2 linked regions of the Homo sapiens genome follow. The protein of the gene in region 1 purifies or fractionates together with the protein of each later gene. This does not show direct contact. Each region holds a gene or a part of one and is shown on either strand. Other genes may lie near its edges.

Region 1 (7,522 bases):
AGGTCATAACACACACACACACACACACACACACAGAAGTGTTGTATTCATGGACAATACCAGTGATTAGAACTCCAGTGCCAGAGATTCAAATCTATTTTGTTTTTATTAAAATTCTTCCTCTCTTGTGTATTGATTTCTATCTGGCCCTTGACCAAGTATATATAATATGATTAGCCCACATGTACTACAGTGCAATAAAGATAAAGTTTTATGAAAATGTTTTTGGCCAAGTAAAAGAAAATATAATTCTTTTTTACTATTATGAAAGTATAAGTTACTCTAATCATTTATTAATAACTCCATAGTATTAACTATATAAATCAACTATGCTATTTTTTATCTTATAAATATCCTAATTTGCATTTATATTAGTTACATTTATAAGAATATATGATGGAATCACACATATTTATGCCAAATACTTATCACTCAACAAAACAGCATAAGTAGGATCAGAGTTTGATCTACTTTTTTTTTTTGAGACCGAGTCTCGCTCTGTCGCCAGGTTGGAGTGCAGTGGCACGATCTCGGCTCACTGCAACCTCCGCCTCCTGGGTTCAAGCGATTCTCCTGCCTCAGCCTCCCAAGTAGCTGGGACTGTAGCCGGACACCACCAAGCCCAGCTGATTTTTGTATTTTTAGTAGAAACGGGGTTTCACCATGTTGGGGAGGATGGTCTCGATCTCTTGACCTGGTGATCCGCCTGCCTCCGCCTCACAAAGTCCTGGGATTACAGGCGTAAGACACCGTGCCTGGCCGAGTATGATCTACTTTTAACATTCTTTGAGTTTAGCTGTGCCTAATACATAGTATGATCATATAAATTAGCATACAGGTGCTTATGAGTCATCAGTCTTAGCTTAGGATGTTAATCAATTGGCCTCACTTTCTCTTTGGACTAGCTGAGTTTTCTTTCATCAGGGTCATAGACTACAAATCAACGAGTCAGGTACAGAAGACAGAACCTTAGGCATTGCGGAATTTGACCAAAAATGGTAAATAAATTGGTGCAAATTCATCATCACAATTGGAAAACTGAAAGAGCAAGCAGTGGGGCCACTGCAATTATAATAACGGGTGGTGGCTCACGCCTGTAGTCCCACCACTTTGGGAGGTCAAGGGGGTCAGATTGCTTGAACCCAGGCGTTGGAGACCAGCCTGGACAACATGGTGAAACCCTGACTCTACAAAAAAAAAAATCCCCTTCCCCCACCTCCCCAAAAAACTAGCCGGGCATGGTGGTGGGCTCCTGTAGTCCCAGCTACTCTGGAAGCTGCAGTGAGAGGATCACTTGAGCCCGGGAGGTTGAGACCAGCCTGGGCAACATGGCGAAAGCCCGTCTCTACAAAAAAAATTAAAAAAAAAAATAGCCGGCATGGTGATGCGCATCGGTAATTCCAGCTACTCAGGAGGCTGAGATGGGAGGATTGCTTGAACCCGGGAGTTGGAGCAGCGAGCCGAGATCGCGCCATGGCAATCCAGCTCCGGTGCCTTCCAGTCTGGGCAACAGAGAGAGACTCCATCGAAAAGAAAAAGGGGGGAGGGGAGGGGAGGGGAGGGGAGGGGTGGGGAGGGGAGGGGAAAGATTTTACAATTTCCTGTAAGCAATGAATGGCTCTAATGTGATATTGATGAAATACCATCTTTAAGAAAGTGTACAGATTGTAAGTGACACGTGGCTGCTTACGTTACTCCTGAGATGCAAGTAGATCATGACATAATGATAACCAGTCATAATTTGCAGTAATCCCTTACAAAAAGTCCAAATTTGTTTGAAAATACAGAAACTTTTACTAGTCGAAGTTAAACATTAAACATTTTCTAGTCATTGCCTTAACAGGATTTATTAGAGTTACTATAATTTATTGAAAGAATGGCTAGATTTATAAAATGTTTTCTGGTTATGAGCCAATTATGGCAATTATTTTAATTATATATTTATAATAAAAATGCATGACTGTAAGATAAAATTTTAAACCAAATCATAATTTATATTTTAAAATAGCTTTAAAATACTTGCACATAACACATGTCGTGGTTAGTAACTTTCTCCAGCTACATTTAAAAGTATTTCTAAGATTAATTACAACATTTTTTTCTAAAGGTTTATTTTTTCCCCACAGCATAACTCTATAAATTAACGTGAGCCCATTATATCAAAGGTGTTTATGTGTGTTACATATGCATTTAATTTTAATATCCTTATTTAAGGCACGAATATCCCCAAGCAAGCACAGTATGCAATAAGAAGTCCTGTGGAGTCCTGTAAGTACTTTGATGAGGAATGCAGGATTTATGTAAGACCTGAGCGAGCTTGAAGAAAGACTCTACAATTGATAAAACTAAGTCAGACCGAACTGGATCATTTTCAAGTAAAATAGGTAGCAAGGCAAAAAGACCGCCTCAAAGTCGCTGCCCTTGGGGCTCTGCCACTTGCTTTACAGGCTAGGAACGGACAATGCCGGGAACCCGAGAGCGGCCGGCGCGGACGCCGAGGCAACTTTACTTGGGGCACCCACTACTCGCAATCAACTCCCGGCCTCCTCTGCTCTCGCGCCTCTAGGGGCTCAAGCACTGCTCCGGGAGCGCTGAATTTTGAGGAAGAGGGCAGAACTTCAGTAAGGAGACCTGTCTGGGCAACGGTTTCAGGACACGCGGTGGGGAAAGCGACTAGCCTCCGGCGGGGCAGGGCGGGCTGTCCTTACCTGCAGAACCACCGGCCACGATCTGCCGAGAAGCCTCGCGCACTAAGCTGACTTCAGGCTTGGCGGACATCTTCGCCAGGCGGGAGGACAAGGGAGTGGGCTGAGATGCGTCAACGAGCTCGCAGCCTGCACAGCCTACTGATCCAGAGAGCCCCGGCTGGGCTGGTCCTCAAGCGCGTTGGCTCCCTGTGGAGCAGCAATCCGGCGACTGCTGGAAAGCGAGGGTTCGAGGCGCAGATTCGTCGCGCGATCTCCGGCGCGTCGGAACCTGTTCGCAGCGCTCTCGCAGAGGCGCCCTCGGCTCCGAAAATGTCTCTGGAAAGAAGACCCGCGGATGGGTTTGGGTTGGCTCACCGCAGCGGCTCAGGCTTTGTCTCCTAGATTGGCGCCCACGCCCTTCTCTATCAGGAGCCTCCGGTAGTTTGTCAAACTAGACGGTTGCCTCTGATAACTCAAGTGAAGTGACCCAGGCCTGGAGCGCCAAGTACAAAGCGGGGACGACACTTGCACCTCCTGGCAAGCCAGAGCACAGTGAGGTTCAAAAGAAGGGACAAGTGAATAAATTCCTCAGTTAGTTGTCCTATAATTGTGGTCTGTAGCAACTAAGTCAAAGCAAATCTAATTTACACTTACCTTACAATAGAGCTAAGGTAGTACTTTACCAAAAATGGTTTTGATTTAAGGTAAAATCATACCTCATCAACTTGAGTTTTATTTACCTAAGGACCAAAAGAAGAAAAAGCCTGGTTACAAATAGTTTCTTCTATACCCAGGTCAGTGGTTCTTAAAAGTGGTTTTAGTACCCACAGCATCAGCATAATTTGTGAATGTGTTAGGAAGTCAAATTCGTGGGTCCCACCCCGACCTAAACGGAATCAGAATCTCTGGGGATAGGGCCCAGAAACGAGTTCTCTGTTGATTGTCATGAACTTTAAAGGTTGTGAACCACTGACTTAAACAATTGAGGAACATTAAGGAACTTAACAGTATATTCTCTCAATAAAATGTTTGATTATTCTTACTAGCCCCTTAGGATAGTTACCAAAACAAAACTACTAATTTATACTCTTTTAAAACTACAAGTTGCCTGTGTTATGTAGGAGAGATATAAGATTGTGAAATTTTCCAAAAATACCTGCCACACCCCTAACAGACAGGAGATGATAAGAGTAAAAGAGAGAATTGGGAGGCTTTAGAAGCCCTATTGTAATATTTCTTAAAACACATTATTTATTGCTAAATATATTTAGTGTGAGCCATGTAAAAATTGCCATTTTTGGAGGTCAAAAACCGTTGAATATCAGCAATTTAGTATGGTTCAATTTATGTGGTTTCTAATCAAATGTACAAAGTACAATAATTTGGTTTCATACTTGATTTTTTATTTCTTAGGCTGAGTCATTAAAAGTTGATCAGTGATATATGGCAAAATTATTTAAAGTGCTTGAGGAATTGGGGAGACTTGCTGCTTATGTGATCAGATATACAAAAATAAAGTTTTTCATTTCATTAAATATTTGATTAAAACTGCTAAGTTTGAAAATGTTTACCAAGAAATAGTTTTCAGAAATTTTGCTAACTTGATAAAGGCTTTTGAGCAATATCTTTCAGACTTTTTACTAATTAAATAGGGAATCTTGAGTGCAATATAGAATCACTTATTCAACAAATATTGAGAACCTGTTATATACTAGGTATAGAAACAGAATTTCAGAGCTCATAGAAAATGTTTTCCTCATTTTTCAAAGCAGAAGCTGAGTTTTCCAAGATCACACTAGGCGTAATAGTATAGCTGGGATTCCATCACAGGACTCCTTCTTTTGATAGCATTGGATTGTAGATTTAAATATTAACCACAGGCTAAAAAAACTACATTCTGTGACACAAATACCCCCACAAATTAATTCCATTTTTTTTTAGTTTTTAAAAATTTGGTCACAACTATTAAACCCTAGTGCACACACTGAAACAGATTCTACACTGAGAGCTCACTAAGTGTTAGCACTTGCCTAGGTACTGACAATATCACTACAAATCCCTTCCCTGTGGCACTTACAATCTAATGGAGGAGATCCTACCACCTTGTAAGTAAATTTTTGCCTTCCCTACGTTATCCAGGAAATGCAATAATACTTTTAGGTCAAGATTTAAAGACAATCTTTTGACATAATTATTTCCATGAGTGTCTTCCCCTCTGAAGATCTTATCCATGGTAGGTGGGAGCAAGTTTGTGTCTAAGACCCAGCCTCTAAAAAGCTCTGTGGATTCAGTTGGAAAACTCCCAGTTATCCTTGTTAAAAAGTTACTTCCTCTTTTTAACCTCTCCAGACTAGAAGAGATATCTTTGAGTGAAAAAAGCAAGACTTGATATCACATATAATCCAGTCCTATACCTCTAGAATACTAGAGGATATGGGGCCTAGGCATGAGAACATTCTAGAGCTTGGGAGTTAACAAGAGTCAATACAGAGCCAATAAGTACTCACTGTGCTAAACGCTCTGATAATGGAATGTAATTCTTATCTGCAGCTAAATTTGCTCATGGCCAATATTGGAATGCTGGAAGATTTAGTACTGGGAAGCAATGGTAATATTTACTTGACCTATTTCAGATTCCCTAGCCTCTATTACATTGTTGTTCTATTATTATTTGGAATAGTGATGTGATATCCTAATGGGGCAAAACTGCTAAAGTATGAAGATTATATTCTTTAAATTATTGATTTATTTAGCTGATCTTGGTTGATAATTACATGATTATTGACTTCCCTATCGTTTGTCAAGTGGCTAAAAAAACCCTTCAGGAACATAACTGGGAATCTAGGAGTTAAGAAAGCCTCTAAGCCATCAACATGCAGAAATCCATTTAGAACTAATTTTAGAACCAGTTTTTAAAAGGGTGGATATCTGATTTCTTGTTTCATATCAGATTAGAAATAACATATTAAAAGATAATTGGATTGTTTGGGGAGAATAGGGGAGGTTCTAGGAAAGTAAAGAGCAATCTGCAACCTTCAGGCCATATTCAACCTATCTAGTCAATTGTAGTAACAACATTCATTGACTTTACCTTCTCCCAGAAACTGGGCTAATTAAGCATTTTGTAATCCATTATCTCATTCCTGTTTTACAAAGGAGGAAACTCTGGCACTGAGATTAAGTAACTCCCCCAAAATAACACTGAGTATTCGGCTAAGGTATTAATTTGAACGTAAGTATAATTTAGGAGCCCTCTATTTGTTAGGCTATGGTTTTTTGTTTTGTTTTAATTTTTAAAACAATCTTTTTTAGAGACAAGGTCTTTCTATGTTGCCCAGGCTGGTCTGGAACTGCTGGACTCAAGCAATTTTCCCATCTATGCCTCCCAAAGTGCTGGGATTACAGGTGTAAGCCACACCAGGCCTGGCCAGGCTATGTTTATTATTAGACCTTCTATGATTAGGCTATATTATTAAGCTACTATTTATGGGGGTTTTTTATTGTCGTTGTTGTTGCTGCCGTTTTGTGAAATGGAGTCTTGTCCTGTTGCCCAGGCTAGAGTGCAATGGCACTATCTCAGCTCACTTTAACCTCCGCCTCCCGGGTTCAAGCGATTCTCCTCAACCCCCTGAGTATATGGGATTACAGGTGCACACACCACACCTGGCTAATTTTTGTGTTTTTAGTAGAGAAGGAGTTTCACCATGTTGGTCAAGCTGGTCTCAAACTCCTGGCCTCAAGTTATCCACCAGCCTCAGCCTCCCAAAATGCTGGGATCGCAGGCCCAGCCTGTTGTTATTTAAAACAAAAAATGTCTAATAGTGAGGGCATTTCGCCAAGTTGCCTAGGCTAATCATGAATCCTGAACTCAAGCCATCCTCCCACCTTGGCCTTCTAAAATGTTGGGATTATGGGTGTGAGCCCCGGCTAGCATGAATTTTCTAAGTCAGACCAAAGAACTGTTGACAGGTAATTTTTTGTTGAAGGAGGCTGTTCTGTGCATTGTTGGATATTTAGCAGCGTCCCTGACCTCAGTCCAATAGATGCCAGTAACAACTCCCTCCCGATTATGATCACCAAAAATGTCTCCAGACATCGCCAAGTGTTCCAGAGGTCACTTCTCTGATATCATTTTATTTAACTTTCCAACATTTGGGAAAAAAAAAAAAAAAACACCTGACCACCCTTTGTTTAAAAACTTTCTTTTCTGATTGTGTCAAAATTAAAGGGCTGGGCACAGTGGCTCACGACTGTAATCCCAGCACTTTGGGAGGCCGAGACAGGCAGATCACCTGAGGTCAGGAGTTCCAGACCAGCCTGACCAACATGGAGAAACCCCGTCCCTACTAAAAATACAAAATTAGCCAGGTGTGGTGGCGTGTGCGTGTAATCCCAGCTACTCAGGAGGCTGAGGCAGGAGAATCACTTGAACCTGGGAGGCGGAGGTTGCAGTGAGCCCAAATTGTGCCATTGCAATCCAGCCTTGACAACAAGAGCGAAACTCTGTCTCAAAACAAAAAAACAAAAAAAACAAAAACAAAAAAAACCTTTCTCCTCTTGGCTTCTATGATACCACACTTTCCTGTATTTCTTACTTCTGTGTGGTCTGATCTTGTTTTTTCCGTTTTCCTCCTACTATACCTAATATCTATTGGAGTGCTCCAGATGTTGGGTATATACTCTCTTCTTTTGTTTATCCATATTCTCTTCTCAGGTAAACTCATCCAGGGCCTTAGTTAAAAGTAATTTTTATACACTGATGACTCCCCAGTTCTTATTTCCAGCCATGGAAATAACCAACGTCCCTGAATCTCCAGAATTATGTATCCAGTTAT
Region 2 (7,037 bases), on another chromosome or scaffold:
AAGAAACCCTACACACAATGATTTTATACATTACTGCATGAACACAGCGTTTTAACCATGAGGAATAATGCACTTTAAGATTCATCAGCCTTGTATTAGTAAACTTTCAGGCTGGCTGAGAACTTTACATGGATTCTCTCCTGAACCCAAGAGCTGTCCCTCAGATGAATCCTGGTCCGTGGTGCATTCCCTCAGTGGTAGGTTTTATTGTGAGTCTGGCTCTCCTCTTTGATAGGTCCTGTGTCTCCTGGAAAGCCCCTGCTCCGATACCCCACATCCCACCCACCCAGCCCTGTCCTATATTTCCATACCCACTTGCACATTCTGGATCTGGATTCTCCCATTTTTAGAAGAGTCATACAAATGGCGTCATCACAGCAGAGGAATGGCGTAGTCCTTGAATGGCAGCATAGGGCCCCTGCTGAAAATAGTGATGGTATCGCGGCATGTGGAATGAAGGGAATGTGGGGCCACTCCCTTGCATGGAGCTGGCAATGGCCGATGGTGTCAGAGGCATTCCCAGTCGGCTATATGGTGGCAGAGAACCCTGGATGGGGTGAGGAATGGGTGTTGCTATGGATGCTGTGCTGGTGCCAAGAGCAGTCAGGGACTGTGGGTGCTGAAACCCAGGAAAACTGGAAGAAGATGATACCCAGGAGCTGAGAGACAAATTATCAGATGTTGTAAAGGCTGACCCTGTAAGGAAAAACACTCATTAGACTGGAAACACTGTGTCAATGTACAGATCAAGAATTAAATTATCTGTAAAGATCAATTTGTGTTTAAGAATATTTAATACGTCTGTAATTTAGAAAGACAAACACATATGAGATCTGTCACGAGGCAAATCTACTTTTCTAGGTAAGAAGATGATATTTACACCTTGCATGGAATAGAGAATTTACTAAATGGAAAAAGACAACTCATTGGATAGCCTGTACACTCCCACAGACTGGCCAAAACATTAATACCCTGCCTGCAGGTAATGACCTGATTCTCTTAAAAAAAGCTGCAAATACCTGATATCTGTTCTGACCTCTGTAGTGTCCTAAGGAAGGCTGAATGTAAGAAATATCTACCAAGCTGTCTGGTTTCCAAAACTGTTGTGAGAACCTAAGAAAGTAAGTTTTCCCACCACAGCATCCAGAAATTTAGAATAGAGTTGACAATGAATTTTCTGACTGTATACAGTTGTCCCTTGAACAACAGGGGTTAGAACAGCACGGGTCCACTTACATGCAGATATTTTTCACTACAATTTACACTGAGTAGGCCTGACCCCTCTTGCCTCACTTTCACCTCCTCCACCTCTTCAGCCTCTACAACCTCCGAGACAGCAAGACCAACCCCTCCTCTTCCTCATCTGCCAACTCAGTGTGAAGATGAGGATGAAGACCTTTATGATGATCCACTTCCACTTAAGGAATAGTAAATATATTTCCTTTCTATGATTTTCTTAATAACTTTTTCTCTAGCTTGATTATTAGAATACAGAATGTAATACATGTAACATACAGAATATGTGTGAATTGACTGTTTATGTTACAGGTAAGGCTTCTGATCAACAGTAGGCTATTAGCAGTTAAGTTTTAGGAAGTGAAAAGTTATATGCACGTTTTGGACCACACAGGAGTTGGTTCCCCAACCACTGTGTTGTTCAAGAGTCAACTGTAATACTAGTGGTTCACTTGGACTGAGTAATAAGAAATGTCCTATGTTTTCACAGATTATATAATTTCATATTAAGGACATAAAACAATGCAGAGGACTCTCTCCCCATACGAACTTTACTGTTCCCAGAATGGAGCCCCTCTGGGCTCTTTTCTCTGGACTCTCTTCCCAGATGCAGAGGGCTGCTCTCTAAGCCTTGGGAACAGAGAAACTTTGTTCAGTTCCTGCTGTCAACACTGGGGCCACTTCCTCTATGTAATATCCTTCATTAGGACAATCCTCTTTTAAAAGTGTTTTCTATTTTGGTCTTTGATTCTAACAAATTATACCTGACATAGATGGAACAGATATATTCCCTGACTTTCAGATTATGAAACTGAGGTTCAGAAGGACTTGGTGACTGCCCCCAAAGTTCAACAGCTCTTATGTACTAAGTCATGGACAAGTAACTCCTGATCCCTGACTCAAAGGCTCAGTATTCTTTCACTTAAAAAAAAAACAAACCATAGGAAACCTGCAGGCAGCATCATCGCCTATGATTCAAAGGCAAAATAATGAAATCTGTGAGGATCAGTGTCGGGGCTCTCCCTTCCCAAGGAGGCTCCTGAAATCCTTTCCCGGCATCGTGTACTCTGAGGACTGGCCATCTCATCAACGACCTGCCCCCATTCTCCTTTAGGTGCTCTGCCTCCCAGCAATTCCATGGCCTTGGAAACTACCTTACCTCGATTTGGGGTTGTCTGACTCTCATCCCCCAAGACATCTTCTTCTCCTCCGTAGGTACGGATGGGTGAGCGTGCATAGGAATGCTTTTGAATCAGGCTCTCCACACTTTCCCTAGGTTAGAGTGACATATCACAGGTTAAGTAAAATGTAAAGGACTCAGAGATACAGAGAGGTCTTAGAGGTAACTCACTAATCAGTAAAACCATTTTCTCAGCCAAAAAGCAACCACTGCACAGAAAGATGAAATTCAAAACATGTACATTTATTCTGTTGTACAGTGACTCCTCAGAGACATGACCTCAGGTGTATGACTGCAAGCAAACATGACTGACTAGGACAAGGACAATCCCCTGAAATACTTTAAAATGAAGGACAAAGGGGTGAACAGGAGCTATGAAACCTGACCACAAGAATATGAAATTCCATGATGTGAAAAATAATGAGTGAATGAATTTACTGCAAGGAGCTGCAATGACTCTTCTTACTGACTTCATCAGCTAACAAATACAAAACAAATACTCAGTTGATACAAATTGCACTGATCCAACAACCAATGAAATGTTGGCAAAAAGTTCAAATTATCATTAGTCAGCGAAAGACTCTAATATTCACCAAGAAATCAAACAAATTCATAGATTATAGTACAATATAGATAGTTTGGGTAATGAACACTAAGATCCTTGTTGCTGTAAGACTGAAAATTACAAAAAACCCATGAAGAAAACACAAATGACCAATAAGGAGTTTTAGCCTCTAGGTAAATTGGTACATTGTCTTGTAGATGGTCTTCCTCCTGTAACATAGTCTATCAACCAAACAGTGAGGTTAACTTTAAAAAATAAAAAAAAAATTTGGCATTGGACAATTTGACCTTCTGCTTTTAAAAAAAAAAAAGCCAGTACAATTTTAGCCAATTTGTTCGCCAAAAGTGCATACTGATAACAGATTAGTCTGCATGGCACACATTTCTGGAACAGCTGTGGCCCAAAGACCAATGCCAAATTGACCAGCAAAGGACAAAAGAAGACTTATAAAATATGTGTTAAATGAGGAAGGACAACCAAACACCACATTTCATATTGAGGGAATAAGCAAAGCAAATAAAATGTCATAATAACTTTTTAAAATGTTAACACTTGTCAACATTTCACATAAATATGCAAACTTTACCTGTGAAAAATTACTACCTAATTCATAGTAAATTTGGTGTTGTAGAAAGCTTATATACCCACATAGATGAAGGCATTTTATAATATATAGTATGACTATGACTATGAGGACTTAAGGATATGCCTAAAAGGAAAATTAACTCTGCAACTATTTAAGTTACATCTCTATTCTCAAATTATTTTAGAGTAAGAATAAAGTACCACCTCTTATAGTCAAAATAATTAGGATCCAGATCCACTGCATTAACACATAGGTGTCAAAAAGAATGAGGTCATTCCATATGTATAGATATGGAATAATTTTCAAGATATAGTAAGTGAAAAAAGTAAAATACAGAATGTTATGTAAAGTATGCTACCATTTGTGAAGTTAGAACACAGGATATGTATGTTCATATATGCCTGCATGTGCACAGGATTTCTAGAATGTTCCAGTTTCCAGAACAAGAAACTGCCTAGAAGAGGTTGCCTCTGCAGGGTGAAATCAGGGACTTGAAGGATTAGAGTAGTGATTCTCAAATTTGTGTGTATGTTTGAATCAACTAGGGATCTTGAAACAAACAAACTATATTGAGATATGATTAAAATACAAAAAGTGGCACACATTTAAAGTGTATGGGGCCGGAGCCGGGGCCGGTGGCTCACACCTGTAATCCCAGCACTTGGGGAGGCCCAGGCGGGTGGATCACCCAAGGTCAGGAGTTCAAGACAAGCCTGGCCAACATGGCAAAACCCTGTCTCTATTAAAAATACAAAAATCAGCCAGGCATGGTGGTGGGCACCTATAAACCCAGCTACTCAGGAAGCTAAGGCAGGAGAATTGCTTGAACCTGAAGGCAGAGGCTGCAGTGAGCCGAGATCGTGCCACTTCACTCCAGCCTAGACAAAAGAGTGAAACTCCATCTTAAAAAAATAAAAATAGAAATAAAGTGTATAGTTTGATCAGTTTGGGCATATGTACGCACCACTGACACCACTGCCACAAGCACAATAACAAAAATATCTAACACCTACAAAAGCTAGCTTCCTCAAGCTCCTATGCTCCATGGTCCCCATCGCAACAAACCTTTCCAAGGAAACCACTAATATAATTTCTGTTCTTGCAGATTAGTCTGCATTTTCTAAACTTTTACAAAGATGAAATCTTAGCTAATATATTCTTTTTTATCTGGCTTATTTCACTCAGCATATTTTAAGATTTATCATGTTGGGGCATACATTAATATTTCTTGTACTGAGTAGCATTATATTGCATGGATATATTATGGTTTATTCACTTATTGATGGATATTTGACTTGTTTCTAGTTTTTGAATGTTAAAATGAAGCTGCTACACATATTCATGCATACTTTTTAACAAATGGACATATACTTTTATTTATCTTGGAAAGACATCTAAGGATGAAATGACTAAATTGCATATATGTGCAATTTTTAAAGAAACTGCCAAACTATTTGTCAAAGTAGTCATACAATTTAGCATTCCCACCATCAGTGTATGAGAACTCCAGGTCCTCTATACTCTCACTGATGCCTGATATGGTCAATGTTTAATTTTAGCTATTGTAATATGCATGTGCTGGTATTCCATCATACTTTTAATTGTGTTCCCCTAATGACTACAATGTTGAACATCTTTTTCTGTGCTTATTTGCTTCCATATTTCTAGCTGTTAATAATCTGTTTAAAAAATTAGGTTATTTGTTTTCTGAGTTTTGAGATTTCTTTTTATATTCTGGGCACTGGTGTTTATAGAATATATGATTTGCAAATATTTTCTTCTAGGCTGTGGCTTGCGTTTTCTCTTTCCTAAACAGTTTCTTTTCAAAAGCAGAGTTTTTAATTTTGATGAAGTGCAATTTATCCATTTGTAATTCTATGGATCACGCTTTTGGTGCCATATTTTAAGATCTTTGCCTAGCCCAAGACCACAAAAGTTTTCTCCTAGTTTTTTTCTGTAAGTGTTATAGTGTGAGGTTTTATGTTTGTGTCTATGATTCATCTTGAGTTAATTTTATATATGAATGAGTTATGAATTGTTTATTTTTGTGCTTATGAATATCCCATTATTTCAACATTACTTGTTGAGAAGACTGTCCCTTCTCCATCACATACATGTGGGTCTACTCTTGGACTCTTTATTCTATTGATGTGTTCGTGGAACTTGACACCAAAACTATACTGTCTTGATTATTGTAGCTGAATAAAAGTGTTAGAACTTTTGACATTAGGTAGTATTAGTACTCTATCTTTTTTTTCAAAGTTGTTTTGGCTATTCTAGTTCTTTGCATTTCCATATGAAATTTAATATTACTTTGTCAATCTCTACAAAAAAGACTCCTGTGATTTTGGTCAGGATTATTTTAGATCTACATATCAATTTGTGCATAACTGATATCTTAATATTGCATCCTTCAAATCATGAACCAGTACATCCTTCTGTTTCATTAGGTCTTCTTTAATTTCTCTCAACAATGTTTTTGTAGTTTTAAGTATATATGTCTTGCATATCCTTTCCAGATTTTCCCTACTTCGTATTATAGTAAATATTGCTTTTTAACTTCAATTTCTGATATTCATTTATAATAGATAGAAATACAATTTATTTTGTATATTGATCTTGTATTCTGTGAACTTGCCAAACACTTATTTGTTCTAGTGGGTTTTGGAGATTTGGGTTTTCTGTATAGATATTCACGATGCCTGTACACAAAGATAGTTTTACTTCTGTCTTTTCAATCACAATGACTTTGATTTTTCCTGACTTATTGCAATGGCTAAAACTACCTGTACAATGTTGAATTAGCAGTGGTAAGAATGGGCCAGGCACAGTGGTTCACGCCTGTAATCCCAGCACTTTGAGAGGCTAAGGTGGGCGGATCACCTGAGGTCGGGAGTTCAAGACCAGCCTGACCAACATGGAGAAACCCCGTCTCTACTAAAAATACAAAATCAGCTGGGCATGATGGCCCATGCCTGTAATCCCCGCTACTCGGGATGCTGAGGCAGGAGAATCACTTGAACCCAGAAGCTGGAGGTTGCAGTGAGCCAAGATTGAGCCATTGCACTCCAGCCTGGGCAACAAGAGCGAAACTCCGTCTCAAAAAAAAAAAAAAAAAAAAAAAAAAAAAAAAAAAAAAAAGAACAGACATCAATAACTTGTTCTTTATCTTACAGAAAGCATTCAATTTTTCACCATTAGATATAATATTCATTCTAGGTTTTTTGTACATACAATTTACTAGACTAAAGGTTCTCTTCTATTCCTAGTTTGCTGAGAGTTTTCAAGAATAGAGGTTGAATTTTGCTAAATGCTTTTTCTGTGTCTGTTGAGACAATCATATAGTTTTGTTTTTAGTTTGTCAGCATGGTCATTACATCCATTGAATTTCAAATGTTAAATCGACCTTGCAGTCCTGAACTAGGCCCTAGTTATTTATGACATATTATCGTTTTTTTAATTCAATTTCC

What was found.
Region 2: the proteins of SLC25A21 (region 1) and TBX20 purify together in Homo sapiens (affinity purification with mass spectrometry; 3 studies listed by BioGRID and IntAct, with this or other methods). This does not show direct contact.

Annotation. Positions count from the first base shown.
Region 1 is NC_000014.9:37,169,573-37,177,094, forward strand, and holds the start of SLC25A21 (mitochondrial 2-oxodicarboxylate carrier), read right to left. Parts: upstream 3,035-7,522; 5' UTR 2,779-3,034; coding exon 2,709-2,778; exon of another isoform or gene 2,454-2,708; intron 1-2,453. UniProt on the Homo sapiens protein: Transports dicarboxylates across the inner membranes of mitochondria by a counter-exchange mechanism.
Region 2 is NC_000007.14:35,202,075-35,209,111, forward strand, and holds the end of TBX20 (T-box transcription factor TBX20), read right to left. Parts: intron 2,509-7,037; coding exon 2,396-2,508; intron 697-2,395; coding exon 356-696; downstream 1-355. UniProt on the Homo sapiens protein: Acts as a transcriptional activator and repressor required for cardiac development and may have key roles in the maintenance of functional and structural phenotypes in adult heart.